7 linked regions of the Homo sapiens genome follow. The protein of the gene in region 3 interacts with the protein of the main gene of each other region in a biochemical or structural test. Each region holds a gene or a part of one and is shown on either strand. Other genes may lie near its edges.

Region 1 (4,200 bases), on a different chromosome or scaffold from region 3:
TGGCTCGCACTCCGGGCAAAGGGGTCAGAACAGTGACTGGCACACACGTTAAGTGCTATGTGAGTGTTAAGATAAAACTAGGATGTCCAGTGGGGAGAAAGCAAGCCTTTGAAGATTATGTGCTTTTACAAACTTCAAGTGCAATGAAAACTAAACAAGATGTTGTTCAGGCATTCATATATGATATAAAGTTCCTTTCTTTAAAAAAGGGATGGGCTGGGCACGGTGGCTCACGCCTGTAATTCTAATACTTTGGGAGGCCGAGGCAGGTGGATCACGAGGTCGAGAAATCGAGACCATCCTGGCCAACATGGTGAAACCCTGTCTCTACTAAAAATACAAAAAAATTAGCTGGGCGTGGTGGCGTGTGCCTGTAGTCCCAGCTACTTGGGAGGCTGAGGCAGGAGAGTCACTTGAACCCGGGAGGCAAAGGTTGCAGTGAGCCGAGATCGTGCCACCGCACTCCAGCCTGGCGACAGAGTGAGACTCCATCTCAAAAAAAAAAAGAAAAAAAAAAGTATGACAAGCAGAAAGTAATTTGGGAGCTGCGGGGAGGCAAGGGTAAGGGATGGGGAAGTGGACCAGAGGCATATGCGTCATTGGCAGTGTCTAAGCACTCACGATAGGCGTGGATCACAGGGGCTCGCTCTGTAATTAAAAGGAAAAGGGTTTTTGTTGTGTTGTTGTTGTTGCTGTTTTTGAGACAAGGGTCTTGCTCTGTCATCATCCAGGCTGGAGTGCAGTGGTGCAGTCTCAGCTCACTGCAACCTCCGCCTCCTGGGTTCAAGCGATTCTCCTGCCTCAGCCTCCTGAGCAGCTAGGACTACAGGTGTGTGCCACCATGCCTGGCTAATTTTTGTATTTTTTAGTGGAAATGGGGTTTTGCCATGTTGCCCAGGCTCGTCTTGAACTCCTGACCTCAAGTGATCCACTCGTCTCGGCCTCCCAAAGTGCTGGGATTACAGGTGTGAGCTATTGTCCCCAGCCAAAAGGAAAAGTTTTACTGTAGTAACCCTTCCGGACTAGGGACCTCGGGCCTCAGCCTCAGGCTACCTAGGTGCTTTAGAAAGGAGGCCACCCAGGCCCATGACTACTCCTTGCCACAGGGAGCCCTGCACACAGATGTGCTAAGCTCTCGCTGCCAGCCAGAGGGAGGAGGGTCTGAGCCAGTCAGAAGGAGATGGGCCCCAGAGAGTAAGAAAGGGGGAGGAGGACCCAAGCTGATCCAAAAGGTGGGTCTAAGCAGTCAAGTGGAGGAGGGTTCCAATCTGATGGCGGAGGGCCCAAGCTCAGCCTAACGAGGAGGCCAGGCCCACCAAGGGGCCCCTGGAGGACTTGTTTCCCTTGTCCCTTGTGGTTTTTTGCATTTCCTGTTCCCTTGCTGCTCATTGCGGAAGTTCCTCTTCTTACCCTGCACCCAGAGCCTCGCCAGAGAAGACAAGGGCAGAAAGCACCATGAGTGGGGGCCCAATGGGAGGAAGGCCCGGGGGCCGAGGAGCACCAGCGGTTCAGCAGAACATACCCTCCACCCTCCTCCAGGACCACGAGAACCAGCGACTCTTTGAGATGCTTGGACGAAAATGCTTGGTGAGCTGGGGATCTCCTGCCCCCGCCCCGTCCCCACCGTTTCTTCCTCTTCCTCTCCTCCTTCTCTCTCTTCCCCTCCTCCCGCTCCTCCTTTCCCTCTCCATCATCTCCTCTCCTAGAATTTCCCGTCATAATCCACCCTTCCCAGGAAGATCTCAATGTCTACTTGCCTTCCCTCTGGCTGCAGCTCTTCCTTTGGGCCCATGACTGTCATGAGGCAGGAAGGACCAGGTCTGGCTCCAAGACCTTGTGGCTACCCCTGACCAGACTCCACTGACCCCTGCTTTCCTCTCCCAGACGCTGGCCACTGCAGTTGTTCAGCTGTACCTGGCGCTGCCCCCTGGAGCTGAGCACTGGACCAAGGAGCATTGTGGGGCTGTGTGCTTCGTGAAGGATAACCCCCAGAAGTCCTACTTCATCCGCCTTTACGGCCTTCAGGTGACCCCCCCACCCCCGACTGGACTTGCAAGCCAGTTCTCAACCCGCAAACCCAGATCTGTGTCCATATGTGTCCATAGCTTCAAGACCTCAGACCTGATCAGTGAATCCCTGAGCCCCAGAACCAAAGACTCATCCAGATGGCAAACTCTGACTTGCCTTTCTAAGTCTGCAATGACTGGCCCCAGTCTCCGTATCAAGATCTCTAAAGCCCCCAGTATTAGTCTGCTGCCTAAGCCTAATCTTTTCCACAAATTCCAATAAATGAGCACTGTATTTGTACCTGAACCTCAAATCTATTCTAAACTCAACATTTTGCATCCCAGGAATCTCTCATCAAAACTCCTGAACCCCAGATGTTTGCCAAGCTCCTAAGTCATAAATCTGTTCAACAAACCCCAAAGTTGAATATTCCATTGATCCTTGAACTCCAAATCTGTCCTTCTAAATCCACAGCACAGACCCCAGAGTTCCCATATTAAAATTCCTGAACACTCAAATACCGAGGTAGTTCTTAAGCAAAAAGTCTTTTCCACAATCCCCTGACCTGAACTTTCTAGGTTTAAGCCCCAAATTCATCCTTTTAAACCCATAAAGATGGACCCAGCATAACTTCCAGATCCCAAGGCTATCAAATATCCACCAAACTCCTAAACCATAACTCTCTCCACAAACCCCAAATTGCACTTACTTTAGCTGGACTCCCCGCGAAACTCCCAAGTCTATGTGTCTGAACTTCAAATCTCAACTCCAACCCCCAAATACTAGAATCCTACCTGTCATGAATTGGGGCTGGGGTGGTGGGGGAGGGCATGGATTGAATCTGTGAATGAGCCTCAACTTCCTAAGACTAGAGTCCTAAATTATGAAATTCAAGCCCCCAAGTCCCAGATCTAGGGCCCCAAACCCCAAATCCAAACCTCTCACAAAAGTGTATGGCTCCCAGACTATACCCCACAATCCACACCCTTAGACACCAACTCTCTGGTGCTGAGCTGAAAATCTCCAAACCAGACTATGAGGCTCCCAAATCCAGACACCCTGCTCCCTGCCCAGCTAACAAAAGCCTGCCACCCCCGGCGTGCCTCAGTGCCACTGTGCCTCCCACCCTACACCTCTCCAGGCTGGTCGGCTGCTCTGGGAACAGGAGCTGTACTCACAGCTTGTCTACTCCACCCCCACCCCCTTCTTCCACACCTTCGCTGGAGATGTAAGTGATCAACCAGCCCTCGGGCCTCACTTGGGGTGTGGAGAGGAGATGGGAAAGTTGCGGGGGACCTGGGAGGCGGCTGACCCCAAGGTATGTGCAGGACTGCCAAGCGGGGCTGAACTTTGCAGACGAGGACGAGGCCCAGGCCTTCCGGGCCCTCGTGCAGGAGAAGATACAAAAAAGGAATCAGAGGCAAAGTGGAGGTGAGGAGGCCACAGGGGAGGAAAGGAAGTTGGGCAGAGGTGAGTGCAAGCCTGGGGAACTAGAAAAGTCCCCTCTCATGGTCCTGGCTCCCAATCCATCTATCCACAGACAGACGCCAGCTACCCCCACCACCAACACCAGCCAATGAAGGTGAGTCCTCTAGTGCAAGTAGGGGTAATAAGGGGCTAGCCCAGGAACCTGTGGCAGGGCTGTGATAACTCTCTACACATTCCATCTTCCCAGAGAGAAGAGGAGGGCTCCCACCCCTGCCCCTGCATCCAGGTGGAGACCAAGGAGGTGCGTGCTGATTCTTCCCTGTGTCTCTGGATGGATGGGTAAGAGTGGATGGAGGAATGAGGAGTTGGATGGGTGCGTAAGTGGGTGAATGGATAGGTAGATTGATAGGTATGTGGATGGACGAGCAGGTGCATGGATGTGTGGACTGATGGATGGGTGGATGGATTGGCGGTAGATGGCTGAGTAGAGGGATGAATTGATGGGAGGATGAAAGTCTAAGTAGATAGATGCATAGGTGAATGGGTATGTGGATAAATGAATGAAAAGGTAGATGGATGACTGAGTAAATTAATCAATGAGTGAATGAATGAACAGTGAATAAATGACTAAATGACAAGTTTCAGTCAGTGAAGAAAGCATGATTGAATGAATAAATGAGTAAATGAATATTTTAACAAATTCATTAGTCAATGAGCCAGTGAATGATAAAGCATGAGGGAATGAAAACATGAATGAATCAGTGA
Region 2 (2,619 bases), on a different chromosome or scaffold from region 3:
CCTGTGGGCGCCCGCGTAGCTGAGGTTGGGGCGCCTTTCCCTGCATTATCACCGCTGGCTGCCGGGGGCCCTGCAGCCACCACCGGGTGTCTGCGTGTTGTCCCCGCTGGGTGAACTGAAGGGAAAGTGATAAAGGAGCCAACTGTGGAAGGGGAGGCCTTGGTGCGGTGGGAGTATCTACCCCCCACCCCGCTTAGGTGGCTTATCTGACCCCAGACAGGACGAGGCCGCTCTGGGGGGTAGGAGGGGGCCGGGGAGGGAGGCCTCCACTCTGACACCTTTCTGCCGTTGGACTATTGACCTCCTGCTCCTCCAGGCACCCCTTACCTCCGGGCTGGTGGCTAACATAAGGGGGTTGGCGGGGGGGATTAAGGCAACCACCTCCTCTCAAGACCCTTTCCGGCCCTTATCCCAGGCCCCACCTGTGTGTGAGGCCCCCTCAGAACTTATGCAGGGGAAAAGGAAGCCTCCACCAGCCAAACAGAGCTGCCATGCTATCAGACGGTTCCTATATAACGTTTATTTCTGGAAGTTAAAGTAGATACAGCAATATACCAAAAAAAAAAAAAAAAAAAAAAGACAAAAAACCTCACAATAATATAAATTTTTACACTATGAAGTACACATTGGAATTTGAATGCAGTGGCCAGGACAGCAGCTTATAAACCACCTTATAGGTAGGTAAGCAACCCACGGGATTCCCTCGGCTGGGCTGGGGATGGGGAGGGGGCAGTGGACAGGAAGCGGGCAGGGCCTGAGGACCCTGTTCTTTAATGGGCCACAACAGGGCTCAGCTCCTCTCAGAACTTTTGCTACAATCAGAGTTAAGACCAGATACATGCTACCTAAGGCCATGAACTTGACAATATCTGCTCCAGAGAAGCCCTGAACCCTCGCCCTAGGTCCCTATGATTTAAACCCAATGGTAAGCCCAAGTCTCACCTTTCTAAATATTCTGTTTATCAGTTAAGCTTATTATGTACTGAAGAGTGTTGCTGGAGAAGTAAGAGCTCTGCATGACACATCAACTGTCTCCAGGCAGGAGGACTGGGGCGAACCCTGTTCATCTTAGAGAAGGTCGTCTCCCCCTTAATTCAGAGACCAGCTAATTTGATTTAACAAACAGAATTCCACAGAAACTCTGATCAGCTGAGGCAAGGTGGTTTTGAGTTGCCAAATCCGGCCATGCCTCTGAGTCAGAGGCAGCCCATCCAGCACGTGCTAGGTGTTCCCATACGCACAGGAGAGGCGAGCTAGCCAGCCAAGGCGGGCAGGCGGGGAGGCCCTCTAGCTGTTCTGCCTCACCTGTGGGGCCCCAGCAGGGAGGAGTCACCAGCCTCAGAGGGAGGCCAGGTATACACCCTCATACGAGGGCAGACTCAAGTTTATCAGTAAGCCTTTGCCCTGCATGAACTGAATGAAGACGCCATTACAAGTGCCACTGGATATCACCAAGAAACTGGCTAAGAACCATATTCCCTGAGCTCAACCAGACACGTCGCTGGGGCCCCATAGTGTGCATCATGTCCAACCTGTAACTCTCTCCCCCTCTTCTTCCATGAGGTCCTGAGACCAGGATTCCTAAAACAAACAGGATGAGGGACCTTTAGACACGCAAGGAGACATGCCTCTAGCAGGATCAGGGGGACTGGGGTCGGGAGGGTGGGGCAGGAAGGAAGCCAGAATCAGAAGTATCCCAGCCCTGATAAGGCACCCACAGAAACAACCTAGCCTCTGAAACAGCAGATCAAGTCCAGGGAGAAAGGGAGTCAAGGTTGTAAGCACCCTCTGCCCAGCCTTACTCACTAAAAGGCCAATACATTACAAAGGAAAATAAGTCTATTTATAAAAAAAAGTCTAAAATGCTTAGATTCTCCTTAAACCTTCCTATTTCAACACCAAAGGCCAGGTTGCAGCTTCAGATGTCTTAAGGGTTTGACCTGAAGCCCGTTTCAGGGATTATATAAATTACCAGCCTGAAGGAAGCTGAATGCTTAAAGCACCAAGGAGGCTGTTAACTGAAGTTTCTTTTTTTTTTTTTTTTTTTTGAGACAGAGTCTCAGACTGTCGCCCAGGATGGAGTGCAGTGTGCAGTGGTGCAATTTTGGCTCACTGCAACCTCCGCCTCTCAGGTTCAAGCGATTCTCCTGCCTCAGCCTCCCGAGTAGCTGGGACTACAGGCGCCCACCACCACACCCAGCTAATTTTTTGTACTTTTAGTAGAGACGGGGTTTCACCGTGTTAGCCAGGATGGTCTTGATCTCCTGACCTTATGATCCGCCTCGGCCTCCCAAAGTGCTGGGATTACAGGCGTGAGCCACCATGCCCGGCTGCTTAAGTTTCTTAAATACAGAAAGGCTATGCTGATACAGTGTTTTTTGCCCTTTAATTGTTATTATTTCTTAATTTAAAAAGAAACCTAGGGCTTAGATAGTCCTATCTTCTATTTGGATGTCAGCAAGGTTAAAAAGTGCAATGCCAGGAGTATGTAGCTATAGGTGGCCTGTGGCATTTGCTTACAGAAACAGGCAGAAGGATGCCGCAGGCACCAGGAGGCACTTGTCTAAGAACAACAACAACAATAACAAAAAGCTGCTGAGAAAGGAGGGCAGGGGAACA
Region 3 (3,500 bases):
AACCCTGCTACTGCTTTCTCAACTAAACTTATGGAGTAGTCTAAATCCTTTATTGTCGTTTTAACAATGTTCACAGCATCTTCACTAGGAGGAGATTCCATCTCAAGAAACCAGTTTATTTGCTCATCCATGAGAAGCAACTCCTTTGAGAGGCCCAGGCGGCCAGATAGATCATTTGAGGTCAGGAGTTTGAGACCACCCTGGCCAGCATGGTGAAACCTCGTCTCTACTAAAAATAAAAAATTTAGCTGGGCATGGTGGTACATGCCTGTAATCCTGGCTACTCGGGAGGGTGAGGCAGGAGAATCACTTGAACCTGAGAGATGGAGGTTGCAGTGAGCCAAAATTGTGCCACTGCCCTCCAGCCTGGGTAACAGAGTGAGGCTCAGTCTCAAAAAAAAGGAAGCAACTCCTCATCCACTCAAGTTTTACCATAAAGTTACAGCAATTCAGTTATATCTTTAAGCTCCATTTCTAATTCCAGTTCTCCTGCTATTTCCACCACATCTGCTGTTACTTGCCCCACTGAAGGTGGAGGTAGCAGTGAGCCCAGATTGTGCCATTGCACTCCAGCCTGGGTGACAGAGCGAGACCTTATCTCAAAAAAAAAAAAAAAATCTTAAGCAGCCACCCAATATATACTTCAGATTAAAAAAGAGCTGTTGGCCAGGTGCGGTGGCTCATGCGTGTAATCTCAGCACTTTGGGAGACTGAGGCAGGTGGATCACTTGAGGCCAGGAGTTTGACACCAGCCTGGCCAATAAGGTAAAACCCCGTCTCTACTAAAAATGCAAAAACTAGCCGGGCACAGTGGTGCATGCCTGTAATCCCAGCTACTCAGGAGGCTGAGGCAGGAGAATCACTTGAACCCGGGAGGCACAGGCTGCAGTGAGCCGAGATCCCACCATTGTAATCCGTCCTGGATGATAAAACGAGACCTTATCAAAAAACCAAATAAATAAATCTCAGCTGGGTTCGGTGGCTGACGCCTGTAATCCCAACACTTTGGGAGGCGGAGGCGGGTGGATCACCTGAAGTCAGGAGTTCAAGACTAGCCTGGTCAATGTGGCAAAACCCTGTCTATTAAAAATACAAAAGCCGGGCACCGTGGCTCACGCCTGTAATCCCAGCACTTTGGGAGGCCGAGGCGGGCGGATCACGAGGTCAGGAGATCGAGACCATCCTGGTTAACAGGGTGAAACCTTGTCTCTACTAAAAATACAAAAAATTAGCCGGGCGTGGTGGCGGGCGCCTGTAGTCCCAGCTACTAGGGAGGCTGAGGCAGGAGAATGGTGTGAACCCATAAGGCGGAGCTTGCAGTGAGCTGAGATCCCACCACTGCACTCCAGCCTGGGCGACAGAGCGAGACTCTGTCTCAAAAAAAAAGAAAAAAATTGTTCATATTATTTCTATGGTTTCTTTTATTATAATTAAACCTATGATCTACATGGAATATATTTTGATAAAAGGAGTTGAGGTAGAGATCTTTTCTCAAGTGGATTCAAAATGTTGTATATGGGAATACAATTGTTTTGTTTGTGTGGTTTTTTTTTTTTTTTTTTCTTTTTTTTTTTGAGATAGAGTCCTGCTCTGTTGCCCAGCCTGGAGTGCAGTGGCACAGTCTCTCACTGCAACCTCTGCCTCCTGGGTTCAAGTGATTCTCCTGCCTCAGCCTCCCGAGTAGCTGGGACTACAGGCACCCACCACCACACCTGGCTAATCTTTGCATTTTTAGTAGAGACAGGGTTTCCCTGTTAGCCAGGCTGGTCTCGAACTCCTGACCTCGTGATCCGCCCGCCTCAGCCTCCCAAAGAGCTGGGATTACAGGCGTGAGCCACTGTGCCCACCCTTTTTTTTGTATTATTAACAGAGGCAGGGTTTCACCACGTTGGCCAGGCTGGTCTCGAACTCCTAACCTCAAGTGACTTGCTCGCCTTGGCCTCCCAAAATGCTAGGATTACAGGCATGAGTCACTGCACCTGGCCAGAGTTTTTATTTTTAAGCATATATTTTCTAGTTTTTTGTTTGTTTTTAGAGACGAGGTCTCACTATGTTGCCCAGGCTGGTTTCAAACTCCTGAGCTCGAAGGATCCTCCTGCCTTGTCCTCCTAAAGTGCTAGGATAACAGGTGTGAGTCCATATACCCCGATATATTTTCAATTTTTTTTAAAGTAATACATTTTATGTAGTCAGAAAAGAACTTTAAAAATCAGCTAATGGGCCGGACACGATGGCTCAAGCCTGTAATCCCAGCACTTTGGGAGGCCGCGACGGGTGGATCATGAGGTCAGGAGATCGAGACCATCCTGGCCAACATGGGGAAACCCCGTCTCTACTAAAGATACAAAAAAAATACAAAAAAATTAACCAGGTGTGGTGGCAGGCGCCTATAGTCCCAGCTATTTGGGAGGCTGAGGCAGGAGAATCACTTAAACTTGTGAGGCAGAGGTTGCAATGAGCCGAGATCATGCCGCTCCACTCCAGTCTGGGTGACAGAGCAAGACACTTCGTCTCAAAAAAAAAAAAAAAAATCAGCTAATGTATTTTTCTTATAAATAATGTGTGCATATTCTAGGAAACTGATAAGTATTAAAATCGTTTTTAATTATCTTAGTCAACCATTATAAACAGTTTAGTGTGTATTGTCCCAAATGGGAAATCAGCTTTTTTCCATGTATCATGACTTGTTTTTCCAGGCAGTAAATAGAATTCTATGTTATCATTTGCAACAGTGTGGAGTATCCTATTATATAGAAATGTGTACTTTATGTTGGATATTTAGGTTGTTTTAAAATTTTTAATATTCTATACTATGATAAATCTAAATCTTAATGCATGTTCTTAATTACTTCCTTAAATTCCTAAAAGTAGAATTGCTTTGCCAATAAGTATATCCACCAGAAAATTGTGTGCCTGCCGGGCGTGGTGGCGGGCGCCTGTAATCCCAGCTACTGGGGAAGTTGAGGCAGGAGAATTACTCAAACCCTCCCTTGGGAGGCGGAGGTTGCAGCGAGCCAAGATCGTGCCACTGCACTCCAGCCTGGGTGACAGAGCGAGACTCCCTCTCAAAAAAAGAAAAAAGAAAATTGTGTGCCTAAGAGCTTGAACGAGAGTGTCACAATTGTTTGCTTTTTTATGATGTGCTACAGAACTTTGGAACTGATAATTACCTTTAGAGATATTTTTATTCTAATTCCTGGTTTTACAAAATAAGTTGTAAAAGGCAGGGCAAACTACTTAATGCCATTTTAGGATCCTTTAACTCTTCTACTTCGTAACTTTCTCTTTCTATACATAATATAGAAACGTTAAAGAGGCTTTTACCAGCATCACTAAAACTTTAATGACATGTTTGTATTTTATGTTAGGACACCAGCAGTGAAAACACTGTGGTTCCTCCAGAAACATATGTGAAAGTGGCAGGCCACCTGAGATCTTTTCAGGTAAAGTCAGAATAAAATAACAGTTAAAGTGTTTTTGCATGAAGCAGTTTCTAGATT
Region 4 (2,996 bases), on a different chromosome or scaffold from region 3:
ATGCTCCTTCTCTTCCAGTTTCCTTACTACCTGTAGCTGGGCATCAACCTTTGAACAGAAAATCAGATTTTAACACAAATGAAAAGATTAAAAAAAGAAAAAAAACTATTCTGTTAATCTATAAGCCCACAAAATACAGTATGTTAGAAATCTCAAACTATTACTGATTTTGCCCATGAACCCTTCAAAATACATCAAGACTATGATAACTGAAAGCTTTACTTTTAATATAAAATATTGTGGAAGATTCAGTAAGAGTCTGAAAAATGACTGAAAAGATTCTTTTCCAAATTGCCAAAAATAGAGAATGCATGCTAATGCTTAAAACCTGGCAATTCATACTATAACATATAAATTAGAACTCAAACAAAAGTCCAAGAGTATTTCCTTCAGAATGGCTAGACATTCTAAAAGAGTCTTTTTTGAAATTAATGCACAAAGTAGAATCAAACAATATTAAAGTGTAAAAAGTAAAATCACAAACACCCACCTCCTAACCTCACCCACAACTCATCCCAATATGTAGAGGTAACCATTCTAACAGTTTCTCACACTGCCTTCAAAAAGCATATCAAAAAGATAGTCCACCATGATCAAGTGGGTCTCACACCAGGGATACAGGGATGGTTTGACATCCACAAGTCAATAAATCTGATACACCATATAAACAGAATTTTTAAAAAATCACATGATCATCTCAATAGATGCAGAAAAAGCATTTGACAAAATCCAGCATCCTTTTATGATTAAAACTCTAGCAAAATCAGCATAGAAGGGACATACCTTAAGGTAATAAAAGCCATCTATGACAATCCCACAGCCAACATTATACTGAACAAGGAAAAGTTGAAAGCATTCCCCCTGAGAACTGGAACAAGACACAGATGCCACTCTCACCACTTCCATTCAACATGGCACTGGAAGTCCTAGCCAGAGCAATCAGACAAGAGAAAGAAATAAAAGGCATCCAAATTGGTAATGAGGAAGTCAAACTGTCACTGTTTGCTGATTACATTATCATATACCTAGAAAACCCTAAAGACTCATCCAGAAAGGTGCTAGAACTGGTAAATGAATTCAGCAAAGCTTCACTATACAAAATTAATGTACACAAATCAGAGCTCTGCTATACACCAACAGCAACCAAACTGAGAATCATATCAAGAACTCAAACCCTTTGACAACAGCTGCAAAAAAAATAAAATAAAATACTTAGGAATATACTTAACCAAGAACGTGAAAGACCTCGACAAGAAAAATTACAAAACACTGCTGAAAGAAATCACAGATGACACAAACAAATGGAAACACATCCCATGCTCGTGGATGGGTAGAATCAATATTGTGAAAATGACCATACTGCCAAAAGCAATCTACAAATGAAATGCAATTCCCATCAAAATACCAACATCATTCTTCACGGAACTAGAACAAACAATCCTAAAACGCATATGGAACCAAAAAAGAGCATACATAGCCAAAGCAAGACTAAGCAAAATGAACAAATCTGGAGGCATCACATTACCTGACTTCAACCTATACTATAAAGCCATAGTCACAAAAACAGCATGGTACTGGTATAAAAATAGGCATGTAAACCAATGTAACAGAATAGAGAACCCAGAAATAAAGCCAAATACGTAGTCAACTGATCTTTGACAAACCAAACAAAAACATAAAGTGGGAAGGGACACCCTATTCAACAAATGGTGGTAGGATAATTGGCAAGCCACATGTAGAAGAATGGAACTAGATCCTCATCTCTCACCCTATACAAAAATCAACTCAAGATGGATCAAAGACTTAAATCTAAGACCTGAAACCATAAAAATTCTAGAAAGCAATATTGGAAAAATCCTTCTAGACAATGGCTTAGGCAAAGACTTCATGACCAAGAACCCAAAAGCAAATGCAACAAAAGAAATGATAAATAGATGAAACTTAATTAAACGAAAAAGCTTCTGCACAGCAAAAGAAATAATCATCAGGGTAAACAGACAACCCATAGAGTGGGAGAAAAAAATCTATACATCCAACAAAGGACTAATATCCAGAATCTACAAGGAACTCAAACAAATCAGCAAGAACAAAACAAACAATCCCACCAAAAAGTGGGCTAAGGACATGAATATACAATTCTCAAAAGAATATATACAAATGGCCAACGAACATAAGAAAAATGTTCAACATCATTAATTATCAGGGAAATGTAAATCAAAACCTCAATGCAACACCACCTCACTTTGCAGGAATGGCCATAATCAAAAAATCAAAAAATAATAGGTGTTGGCATGGATGTGATGAAAAGGGAACACTTTTACACTGTTGGTGGGAATGTAAACTAGTACAATCACTATGGAAAACAGTATGGAGAGTCCTTAATGAACTAAAAGTAGACCTACCACTTGATTCCGCAATCCCACTTCCGGGTATCTACCCAGAGGAAAAGTCACGCCATGGAATACTACTCAGCCATAAAAAGGAACAAAATAATGGCATTCACAGCAATCCGGATGGAATTGGAATTGGAGACCAATATTCTAAGTGAAGTAACTCAGGAATGGAAAACCAAACATTGTATGTCCTCACTCATAAGTAGGAGCTAAGCTGTGAGGACGCAAAGGCATAAGAATGATACAATAAACTTTGGTGACTTGGCGGAGGGAGGCAAGGGACAACAGACTACACACTGGGTACAATAGACTACACACTGGGTACAATGTACACTGCTTGGGTTATGGGTGCACCAAAATCTTGGTATCACCACTAAAGAACTTATTCATGTAACCAAACACCACATGTTCCCCAAAACCTATGGAAATTTAAAAAAAAAAAAAAAAAAGTAAAATCACACATACCTCCTAACCTCACCCACAACTCATCCCAATATCCAGAAGTAACAATTCTAACAGTTTCTCATGCAGCCTTCCAGAAATTTTTAAAATATACAGCACAGGAACACAAGTAAACATATACTTTAACGCAAAAAGGATAAC
Region 5 (3,500 bases), on a different chromosome or scaffold from region 3:
ACAGCATTGAGAAAGCCAGATTTGTTAGAAGAAAAAACTAAAGAAAACATTTGGAGAAGAGTTGCAAATACCAAGGGATATGCAAATGACATGCTGTTGTGAAGATCAAACAATATAGATACAGAGTTAGGAGGCAGTCCAGAAAAAGATACATCTGTATTACTCACCACGGGGTCTCAGGCACAGACCCATGACAGGATCATCATCATAGCACTTAACATTATATTGCTCATTTATTATTTATTATGTTGTCCCTCTCCCTCATGTAAGGTCCATGAAGGCAGGGACATTTTCTGTTTTCCTCACTTCTGTATCCACAGCACAATGGCTGCTACATAACTGATGGGCTCAATACATATCCATTAAATGAATTAATATTTCTATGAACTCCAACAGTATCCAATGAAATTCACATTTGCTTGTGAATAGGGAAACATCTAGCTAGAACTAAGAACAGAATTAACCTCCAACCATTCACATTATATAAGCACAAATCACATGAGTGGAAGTGAGAAAGTGGACTGTTAGAGATAAGTGTTTAATAAAAAAATTAAAAGATGGGACATCTTTGAGAACAAATTTCAAATCAACAAATCAACTGTGTAAAGTAGGCAACCCTACTGTTATTTCTAGACATATTAACTGCAAGTACTTTTTTATAATTTTTCAAATGGAAGACGACCTATTCATTCTGATCCAAACTCACGTTCTTTCTCTACTAGTCTTATTACAGTTCTTGTTTCCAAGCATTAAAATCCCTGTGTATTTTTAATTTATTGTGAATAATTTGGTAGTTGTCTAACCCAAGATTATTTATGGCTGGCTTATTTTCCCTTTGTGTATGGAGTGCAAATGCTGTTATGTATTAAAGAGAAATTCTACAAGTATGGCAAAGTACGCTACCCTATGGAACCACAAAGTCAAATGATGCTAAAATAAGCTATCTATTAATCTCGTAGCCTACACTGGATGATGAATTGTCCTCTCCCCCTGAAATTCATATATCAAGTCCTGACCTCTAGTAGCTCCAAATGTGACTATATTTAGAGATGGGGCCTTTAAAGAACTCATTAAGATTAAAGGAGGCCATGGGGGTGGGGCCCTGGTCTCACATACTCAGTGTCCTTACAAAAAGAAGAGACACCAGGGATGTATGCAAGCAGTGGGAAAACCACAGGAGAACACAAGGAGAAGGCAGCTATCTGTGAGACAAGAAAGGCCCTGGAAGAAATCAAACCTACTATCCCTTTGATCTTGGATTTCGAGCCTCTAGACTGTGAGAAAATAAATTTCCGTTGTCATGACAACCCTAACAAACTAATACACTTAGTGTTTTCCATTTCCCCTTTATTAAATGTATACACTATTTAAATGTAAACACAAACTCCATTTAGCTATTTAAAAGAATTCCTGTTTGGAATAGTTGATTAAATTCTGTTTTCATAAAAGTACAGATAATTTTCTGATTAAATGATTTTCTTATGATTTTTTTTAAAATCATCTAAGTGGGACATGGGATTTTCTTTAAAATTAATCAGCAAGCAGTGAAATAATATTCTATCTCCTCACCCAAAAGTCTTTGATTTAAGAAAATCTATGTTCCCTCCATTGATAAAGTTCTAAGTTTAAAATAATGTTCTACTTACCAAATCAATCTGATCTAAAGAAATCTTCCCAACATTTCCCTGGGTACTGTAATCTTGGCCAGTGTAGGAATGACTTTAAAAAAAGAAAAAAAAATATTAAAACAGATTCATAAAATACTTTTGATCCCTTCGAAGGAAATTTTTTAAATTCTGAAAATGATTAAAATAAGAAAGCATTTTACATGTAAACCTTAGCAGAAACATAGCCAAGTGTTTTAAACGTATTTAATGAAATTAATTTAAGTAACTTACCCCAAAATAATAGAAAAATATAGTAACAGTCTGAACCTCCTGACTCCTAGTCTAGAGCACCACTTCCATTTTTTTAGAAGCATAATCCAAGTTGTTGTTAAAGTTCAAACCTCTACCATTTATCCTTTATTAACAGCACGACAACATAGCAAAAAAGCAGCTGGAACTTAAATTGGGAATCATCACTTAAAAGTAGTAGGTGAGCAAGTTACTTAGTTACTCTCTGTATGCCAGGTGCCTTATTGACTAATGGCGATAATAATGCCTGCTTTGCAGTGTTGATAGGAGGTCTGAATTGTAAGAATTTTTGTTAAAGAGCCTGACATAAAGCAATCACTGTTTATTAAAATAAATAATATCTGAATAGCATTTTACAGTGTACAAAGAGTCTTCAATAGCCTCTAATTAGATCCTTGCAACCCCCTGAAAGAGCGTTTCTGTATATCATCTGATGAATGGAGGCTTGGAGGAGTTAGAAACTTGTTAGGATCAGAAAGCAAGTCAGCAGTGCAGTGGGAACTCAAACCTTTTGATTCCTAATTCCCCATTTTTTCACCGCACCATATCATCCTCTTCCCTATAATAAATTTTCCTGCATGATTATCTTCAAATTAGGAAACATAACTTGGTATATACTACCTTAAGCCACCCACCTCAGTAATGTTTGACCTCCTTCACACAACACACTACTCATGCCCAACTCCATGAACACAGACTCAGGTGCATGCAGGTGTGACATAGCAAAAAACAGCTGCTAGATTACATAGAAATTCACAATCAAACCAAAGATTATACAAATACCACAACTAAAGGGAAACCCTGGAGTGAAGAGTCATTATGATCATAAAGAATTCCACCTGGGCAACAGAGTAAGACTCTGTCTCTACAAATAATAAAAATTAAAACAAAAACAAAAACCTGGGCATGGTGGCATGCCTGTAGTCCTAGCTACTCTGGAGGCTGAGGTAAGAGGATTGCTTGAGCCAGGGAGATCAAGGCTGTAGTGAGCCATGATCATGCCTGAGCATTCGAGCCTAGGCTATAGAGCGAGACTGTCTCAAAAAAACAAACAAACAAACAAAAAATCCAGATACTACTTTCTATCTGCTCAGTTACAGATTCTACCTGCTGAACCACATATACGCTCAAGATGCTCTGTAGACAGGCTGTTGTTTCCATAATCAATCAATTTTACTGATTAAACAATGGGTATGGATTATGAAGCAAAACCACAATATAGCTGGCTCACACCTGTCATCCCAGCACTTTGGGAGGCTGAGGCAGGCAGATGGCTTGAGCCCAGAAGTTCAAGACTAGCCTAAGCAACATGACAAAACCTTGTCTCTACAAAAAATACAAAAATTGGCCAGGCATGGTGGTGTGTGCCTGTAGTACCAGCTACTCAGGAGGCTGAAGCAGTAGGATGGCTTGAGCCCAGGAGGTGTAGGATGCAGTGAGCTGAGATCATGCTCCACCCTGGGTGACAGAGTAAGACCTTGTATCAAAAAAAAGAAAAAAAAAAAGGTACAGATTTCCCCTCCCTGCAAGTCCTCCTCCTACAGGCTAAGAAGGACCTGAGAATTACTCTGAGAGCAGGATGAG
Region 6 (3,500 bases), on a different chromosome or scaffold from region 3:
TTTTCCCCGTACATGAAGGGCAGTTGGGTACAGTCATGGTAATGCATTATATTTTAAGATTTTGCCTTTCTTATACAGAACAATCCCAGCCTAAAACTTACATACACAGAATGTCTGAGGGTTTGTGGCAACTGGTTAGCAGAAACGTGCTTAGAAAATCCTGCGGTCATCATGCAGACCTATCTAGAAAAGGTAAGATTTTTGGAGCAACCCTTAAGATAGTTACTTAGCATGAATATGCTTCATCTTTTCATCAAGATCAATATATTTCCAAAGCAAATAAAAGTATGGTTTTATTTTTCTATATATTATTACTGTTGTAGCTCTGTATAGTCTCTAGGGTGGAGTGAAACATTGTTACAAAACAAAGCAGCCAATTTTGAAAGTAAGCCCAAGTATAGTATCTCTTCTTCCTCCTTCCTACCTCCACTACCAGCTACCCTTTCAGCAGGTTGCTTCTGATCATTTCTTCATTTATGCATCTACAAAAATAACTGATTAAGAATAGGCAAGTCAGCCCTTGCTCTTCATTAGCCCAGCCACCCACAAGTAAAGGCTTCAATATACTAGCCCCTTTGACTTTCCTGTTTCTCCCTCTTATTCCTTTAGATTCACTAATTTTGGAAATAGTTACCTCACTAAATAAGTGTAACATGAAACACATGATGCGATTGTCTTTCTTTTCTTTTCTTTTCTTTGAGATGAAGTCTCTCTCTGTCGCCCAAGCTGGAGTGCAGTGGCGCAATCTCGGCTCACTGCAACCTCTGCCTCCTGGGTTCAAGCGATTCTCCTGCCTCAGCTTCCCAAGTAGCTGGGACTACAGGAGTGTGCCACCACACCCGGCTAATATTTTTTATTTTTAGTAGAGACGGTTTCGCCACATTGGCCAGTCTGGTCTCGAACTCCTGACCTCAAGTGATCCACCTGCCTCGGCCTCCCAAAGTGCTGGCATTACAGGCTTGAGCCACCACACCCAGCCTGATTGTCTTTAAATTTTATAAAGTTCTCTGTTTTTGCAGAGTTCTTTACAAGTATTAGCTGTCTGGGTTATTTCTACACTGTCAAAGTTGTTTTGAAAAGTCAAGAAAATACCATAGTTCAGGGCTGTCCAATCTTTTGGCTTCCCTGGGCCACATTGCAAGAAGAATTGCCTTGGGCCACACATAAAATATACTAACATTAATGATAGCTAATGAGCTTAAAAAAAATCACAAAAGAAATCTCATAATGTTTTAAGAAAATGTACGAATTTGTGTTGGGCCACATTCAAAGCCGTCCTGGGCCACATGCGGCCCATGGGCCGTGGGTTGGACAAGTTTGCAATAGTTCATATAATTTAGCTAGCTTTTATATGTATATAAGTTAAATTTTAGTGTATTACCTTAATTTGAGTGATTCTTTAGATGTATTTAGTATTTGTAAATATAATTTAAATTGGTTGTGTTTTCTTGAAGGCAGTAGAAGTTGCTGGAAATTATGATGGAGAAAGTAGTGATGAGCTAAGAAATGGAAAAATGAAGGCATTTCTCTCATTAGCCCGGTTTTCAGATACTCAATACCAAAGAATTGAAAACTACATGAAATCATCGGAATTTGAAAACAAGCAAGCTCTCCTGAAAAGAGCCAAAGAGGAAGTAGGTCTCCTTAGGGAACATAAAATTCAGACAAACAGGTAACTAGGTTTCTACAAGTGACAATTTTATGTTCACCAGTTAACTGAGTGAGTGTTTTTGCATAGAAAGAGTGACTTGGTCTTTTTATCTGATATAGTTTTGAGCTCTAAAGGTCGGCTTAACTATATATAGATTATCTTGGTCTTTTGGGTTCTTTTCGGTTTTTGTTTTTTGTTTTTTTTTTTGAGACAAGGTCTCACTCTGTCACCCAGGCTGGAGTACAGTGGCGTGATCACTGTACTCCAGCTCACTGCAACCTCGACCTCCTGGACTCAATTGATTCTCCCCCTGAGCCCCCGAAATAGCTGGGGCTACAGGTGCACGCCATACCTGGCTAATTTTTGTATTTTTTGTAGAGATGGGGTTTTGCCATGTTGCCCAGGTTGGTCTCAAACTCATGGGCTCAAACGATCTGCCCACCTTGGCCGCCCAAAGTGCTGGGATTACAGGTGTGAGGCACTGTGCCCTGTCTGTCTTGGTCCTACTGTAGTTAATCACAAATTAGTATGTAAGATATTGACGTGTTCTTTTGTGAATAATTCATGCTCTGCTTCTAAGTTCATTGTGGAGAATATAGATATTAGCTTTCTGTTTTGCTTTTTTGGTTTGTTTGTTGGTATCATAGTGGAAAAGGAGATAGATATTGAAATTAATTACAAAAGTTACCTATTTTGATGTAATTAAATCCCTTTATTTAAGCCTGTCTTGAATCTGTATATTTTAGTGTAAGCAGAGGTGTAAGTTAGCTAAATAGCTTGGGGAGAGTCCCCTTTGTCCTTTGATGCTTAGGAAGGTGTGTGAATTGCACAGTTAAGACAAAAGTAAGTTTATTCCCTTTATAATCCTTAGAAGTTTGCTTTTTTCCCTGGGATAAAAACCCAACTTTTTTCATTAAATGTTGTATATCATGTGTGATTTTGTAGTTCTGTTAAAGTTCATGGCTTTTGTGTTTTACCTTAATTATTCTATGCAAGATACACAGTAAAGGTTCAGCGAGAGCTGGAGTTGGATGAATTAGCCCTGCGTGCACTGAAAGAGGATCGTAAACGCTTCTTATGTAAAGCAGTTGAAAATTATATCAACTGCTTATTAAGTGGAGAAGAACATGATATGTGGGTATTCCGACTTTGTTCCCTCTGGCTTGAAAATTCTGGAGTTTCTGAAGTCAATGGCATGATGAAGGCAAGTGTTACTCAGCCCAATATTCTACCCTGTGCTTGAAAAACTTAGACATAAGCCCCTTGATGTCAGGAATCGTGTATACCTCTTTGTATTCCTAGCACTTGGTCCAGTGCTCTACACATAAGTAGCATTTTGTAGTTTTCTAAACTTTGATCCATATTTAGGATTATTTACAAGTTCTAGTCTTGTTTCTACAAAAGTTCCTTTGTATTATATAAGCTGACAAGCTGTAAATGATGCAAGTTTGTGTGGAGGTGATAGAATTTAGCTTGGTCCTATGTCTTTGCAGTTACCATAGGAGAGGGTCTAGAATGGGGCATTAGATTGGAGGATTTAGAAAGCAGTTAAAGATGATGTGATCACAGGTGGGTTTTCCCCCTGCTGCAGAAATATGGGATTTTTACAATAAATTACTTTTGTAAGTAGAGAAAATATATTTTTCAGAAAATGTCAAGACAGCAGTATTGTATAAGTTTTTCTTTGAAAACCTTAGATTATAGTGATGACACCTAATATTAAATTTAAGTTGACAAGCTATATATTGTTAGTCAATTTGAAGGTTAGAGATAAAATGTTTCTCCTGCAGGAAAATAATAAGACTCATAATAGATACAGTCAATCTCTGCTGTAGTATACACTAAATAT
Region 7 (3,438 bases), on a different chromosome or scaffold from region 3:
CAGAAGTATTGCTGGGGTCAGCTCGTTACTCAACTCCAGTTGACATTTGGAGTATAGGCACCATATTTGCTGAACTAGCAACTAAGAAACCACTTTTCCATGGGGATTCAGAAATTGATCAACTCTTCAGGATTTTCAGGTAGCTATTAAAAACTGAGATAATAAAGGTAACATATATGTAACAATGAGATTACATTTATGCTTTAAGAAATTTTTAATTTCCTGTTTTTTAGAGCTTTGGGCACTCCCAATAATGAAGTGTGGCCAGAAGTGGAATCTTTACAGGACTATAAGAATACATTTCCCAAATGGAAACCAGGAAGCCTAGCATCCCATGTCAAAAACTTGGATGAAAATGGCTTGGATTTGCTCTCGGTAAGGAGTGCCCTTGATACTGACTTTCAAATTATTGATGATTCTGAATATATTCAGTTCTTTGTTTTGCCTAGAAAATAGGAAGAACACTAACATTTTTGAGCTAGGTGTCTGTTATGTACATTGTATTATACTAGCTTCATTTTAGATATCAGGAGGCACTAGTGGCTTTGAGAGGAGGATTTAGCATTAGTTTTTGTTTTTTATCTGACAGGTAGCTATGGATATTCTGAGGGAGAAGCCAGGATTAATACACATTTTTTTTTTTAAGTTGCTGAATTGTAGTGGCTCTCCTTTCTAGCATTTTTGTCACTATTGAGCCCTCTTAGTTTATGCTAGACGTGTTTTTCTTATTGGTTGATATTTTAAATTATTAAAGCCATCTTCTGAATAAGCTTTATTCGCACTTTGTACCTAGTTTCTCCATCAGAAGGATCTATTGCTATACCATTGTATACATTTTCTCATTGGTCTTCGGGTTACTTTCAGAGTGTAAAGACTCCTTATGCCACAAAATTAAGCTTAGATTTCCCCCAAATCAAATACTATAAATCAGATTCCTTAGTCTAGCCACAATTGACATATCTTGGAGTGGATAAATCTTTGTTGCTGGCATTGTTCTGTGCATCATAACTTGTTTAGTGGCATGTCATCACTGTCTTCTACTCTCTAGATGCCATTAGTATACTCTTCACAGTTAGGACAACCAAAAGTGTCTCCAGATATTGCCAAATGTCTCCTGATGGGCAAAGTCTATCCCAGTTGCGAACCATTATTGTAAATTAAACTTGGTTTCAAATTTGAGCTTTATTCCTTAGCTCTGGGAACTTGGGCAAGTTACTTCCCTTCGAGCCTCAATGTCCTCATTTGTAAAATGACATTAATACCTACTTTTAGCTGTGGGAATTGAGTACCATGATTTATACAAAGCAGTTTGTATGGTGCTGGTTACATGAGAGTTCAGATGGTAACTAGTTAGTAAAAAATCTCTAGTGTGCTTGTTGATTTTATTTTATTTTAGTATTTCTTAAAGATCAAATTTAACATCAATCCTAAACTTTATTTAGCTTTTTCTGGCGCGTAAACTAACATACTAAGTTGTGTGACTATAATTCATTTAGTGACTCATTTTTAGCTATTTTTATAACACATTGTGCTATGGGGGGTTTTGGAACTTGCTGGAAGCTACATCAGAAACTGCCATAGTTAATTGCCATTTCAAGAATGTTGTAAATAACTCAGGTGGCCGTTTAATTCTCAATGTAAATATAATTAACTAGACGTCTTTCCTATATTTGTGTCTCAGTTTTAAAGCTATTTCTGGATGCTTGAGTCTTACCGTAATTGATAACAAAAAGAGGTTATTGAGAATATCTATGATTTACAGAGTAAGTTATTCTAGACCTCAAGAGTGAAATGTAGGGGAGGAGACATTTGTGTGTTAAACTAATGGAAATGCTCATTTAATAGATATTCACTGAAAGTATTAGTTTTGGTTTATTGCTAGAAAAGTTGAGGTTTTATGGAGATTTTTGTAAAAAATGGTTTATTTCCTAAATAAATATCTCTTTTTCTTTTTTCTCCCAGAAAATGTTAATCTATGATCCAGCCAAACGAATTTCTGGCAAAATGGCACTGAATCATCCATATTTTAATGATTTGGACAATCAGATTAAGAAGATGTAGCTTTCTGACAAAAAGTTTCCATATGTTATATCAACAGATAGTTGTGTTTTTATTGTTAACTCTTGTCTATTTTTGTCTTATATATATTTCTTTGTTATCAAACTTCAGCTGTACTTCGTCTTCTAATTTCAAAAATATAACTTAAAAATGTAAATATTCTATATGAATTTAAATATAATTCTGTAAATGTGTGTAGGTCTCACTGTAACAACTATTTGTTACTATAATAAAACTATAATATTGATGTCAGGAATCAGGAAAAAATTTGAGTTGGCTTAAATCATCTCAGTCCTTATGGCAGTTTTATTTTCCTGTAGTTGGAACTACTAAAATTTAGGAAAATGCTAAGTTCAAGTTTCGTAATGCTTTGAAGTATTTTTATGCTCTGAATGTTTAAATGTTCTCATCAGTTTCTTGCCATGTTGTTAACTATACAACCTGGCTAAAGATGAATATTTTTCTACTGGTATTTTAATTTTTGACCTAAATGTTTAAGCATTCGGAATGAGAAAACTATACAGATTTGAGAAATGATGCTAAATTTATAGGAGTTTTCAGTAACTTAAAAAGCTAACATGAGAGCATGCCAAAATTTGCTAAGTCTTACAAAGATCAAGGGCTGTCCGCAACAGGGAAGAACAGTTTTGAAAATTTATGAACTATCTTATTTTTAGGTAGGTTTTGAAAGCTTTTTGTCTAAGTGAATTCTTATGCCTTGGTCAGAGTAATAACTGAAGGAGTTGCTTATCTTGGCTTTCGAGTCTGAGTTTAAAACTACACATTTTGACATAGTGTTTATTAGCAGCCATCTAAAAAGGCTCTAATGTATATTTAACTAAAATTACTAGCTTTGGGAATTAAACTGTTTAACAAATAATGCTGCTCATTGTGATTCTTACCTATAAGCAGCCTAATTTGAATTATTTGCTGCAATCAAGAGAAGTGTACAATAGTTTTATTACTTTTTTAGTGTACTTCTATCCTTTTTCCAACTATATCTCCTCTATTTTTCCTCCTCGTTAACAGGCTAGAATGTGCATTCCTGGGTTACCGATTTTTACACTCAATTGGATGTGTAATGAGGGATCTATCTAATCCATCTTGTCTTGGAAATTTTGCACTCTAGAAGAAAGTGTGTCACTTTCTTCAGCAGCGAGACCTTTTAAGATTGGTGGTTTGGTTGTCCTGTTCTGTGGTCTTTGGTGGAAGCCAGTTTGTTGTAAGAGAATGTAGAGCTTATTAATGTAAGTCATTTGGGGTTATATTGTGGAGGGTTGTTTAGGATTGCATGGCAGGAATTGGGTAAATGAAAGGTAACACTAAAGATTGGAGATGGTATAATGGCATATCTACAGGTCTGTGTTTCCTTATCTGCGA

The links.
Region 1: the proteins of RPA2 (region 3) and WAS form a complex in vitro, tested with the Homo sapiens proteins (one study listed by BioGRID).
Region 2: the proteins of RPA2 (region 3) and STAT3 form a complex in vitro, tested with the Homo sapiens proteins (one study listed by BioGRID).
Region 4: the proteins of RPA2 (region 3) and RNF20 form a complex in vitro, tested with the Homo sapiens proteins (one study listed by BioGRID).
Region 5: the proteins of RPA2 (region 3) and PRIM2 interact in a biophysical measurement, tested with the Homo sapiens proteins (one study listed by IntAct).
Region 6: of the proteins of RPA2 (region 3) and ATM, one has a biochemical effect on the other in vitro, tested with the Homo sapiens proteins (3 studies listed by BioGRID).
Region 7: of the proteins of RPA2 (region 3) and CDK1, one has a biochemical effect on the other in vitro, tested with the Homo sapiens proteins (2 studies listed by BioGRID).

What each region holds. Positions count from the first base shown.
Region 1 is NC_000023.11:48,682,399-48,686,598, forward strand, and holds the start of WAS (actin nucleation-promoting factor WAS), read left to right. Parts: upstream 1-1,400; 5' UTR 1,401-1,455; coding exon 1,456-1,587; intron 1,588-1,884; coding exon 1,885-2,025; intron 2,026-3,148; coding exon 3,149-3,235; intron 3,236-3,335; coding exon 3,336-3,438; intron 3,439-3,547; coding exon 3,548-3,589; intron 3,590-3,682; coding exon 3,683-3,736; intron 3,737-4,200. UniProt on the Homo sapiens protein: Effector protein for Rho-type GTPases that regulates actin filament reorganization via its interaction with the Arp2/3 complex. Important for efficient actin polymerization. Possible regulator of lymphocyte and platelet function.
Region 2 is NC_000017.11:42,312,824-42,315,442, forward strand, and holds the end of STAT3 (signal transducer and activator of transcription 3), read right to left. Parts: 3' UTR 501-2,619; downstream 1-500. UniProt on the Homo sapiens protein: Signal transducer and transcription activator that mediates cellular responses to interleukins, KITLG/SCF, LEP and other growth factors. Once activated, recruits coactivators, such as NCOA1 or MED1, to the promoter region of the target gene.
Region 3 is NC_000001.11:27,897,576-27,901,075, reverse strand, and holds part of RPA2 (replication protein A 32 kDa subunit), read left to right. Parts: intron 1-3,368; coding exon 3,369-3,443; intron 3,444-3,500. UniProt on the Homo sapiens protein: As part of the heterotrimeric replication protein A complex (RPA/RP-A), binds and stabilizes single-stranded DNA intermediates that form during DNA replication or upon DNA stress.
Region 4 is NC_000009.12:101,557,853-101,560,848, reverse strand, and holds part of RNF20 (E3 ubiquitin-protein ligase BRE1A), read right to left. Parts: intron 49-2,996; coding exon 1-48. UniProt on the Homo sapiens protein: Component of the RNF20/40 E3 ubiquitin-protein ligase complex that mediates monoubiquitination of 'Lys-120' of histone H2B (H2BK120ub1).
Region 5 is NC_000006.12:57,530,630-57,534,129, reverse strand, and holds part of PRIM2 (DNA primase large subunit), read right to left. Parts: intron 1,720-3,500; coding exon 1,647-1,719; intron 1-1,646. UniProt on the Homo sapiens protein: Regulatory subunit of the DNA primase complex and component of the DNA polymerase alpha complex (also known as the alpha DNA polymerase-primase complex) which play an essential role in the initiation of DNA synthesis.
Region 6 is NC_000011.10:108,327,567-108,331,066, forward strand, and holds part of ATM (serine-protein kinase ATM), read left to right. Parts: intron 1-78; coding exon 79-192; intron 193-1,454; coding exon 1,455-1,672; intron 1,673-2,647; coding exon 2,648-2,855; intron 2,856-3,500.
Region 7 is NC_000010.11:60,791,915-60,795,352, forward strand, and holds the end of CDK1 (cyclin-dependent kinase 1), read left to right. Parts: coding exon 1-139; intron 140-233; coding exon 234-375; intron 376-1,962; coding exon 1,963-2,061; 3' UTR 2,062-2,938; downstream 2,939-3,438. UniProt on the Homo sapiens protein: Plays a key role in the control of the eukaryotic cell cycle by modulating the centrosome cycle as well as mitotic onset; promotes G2-M transition via association with multiple interphase cyclins.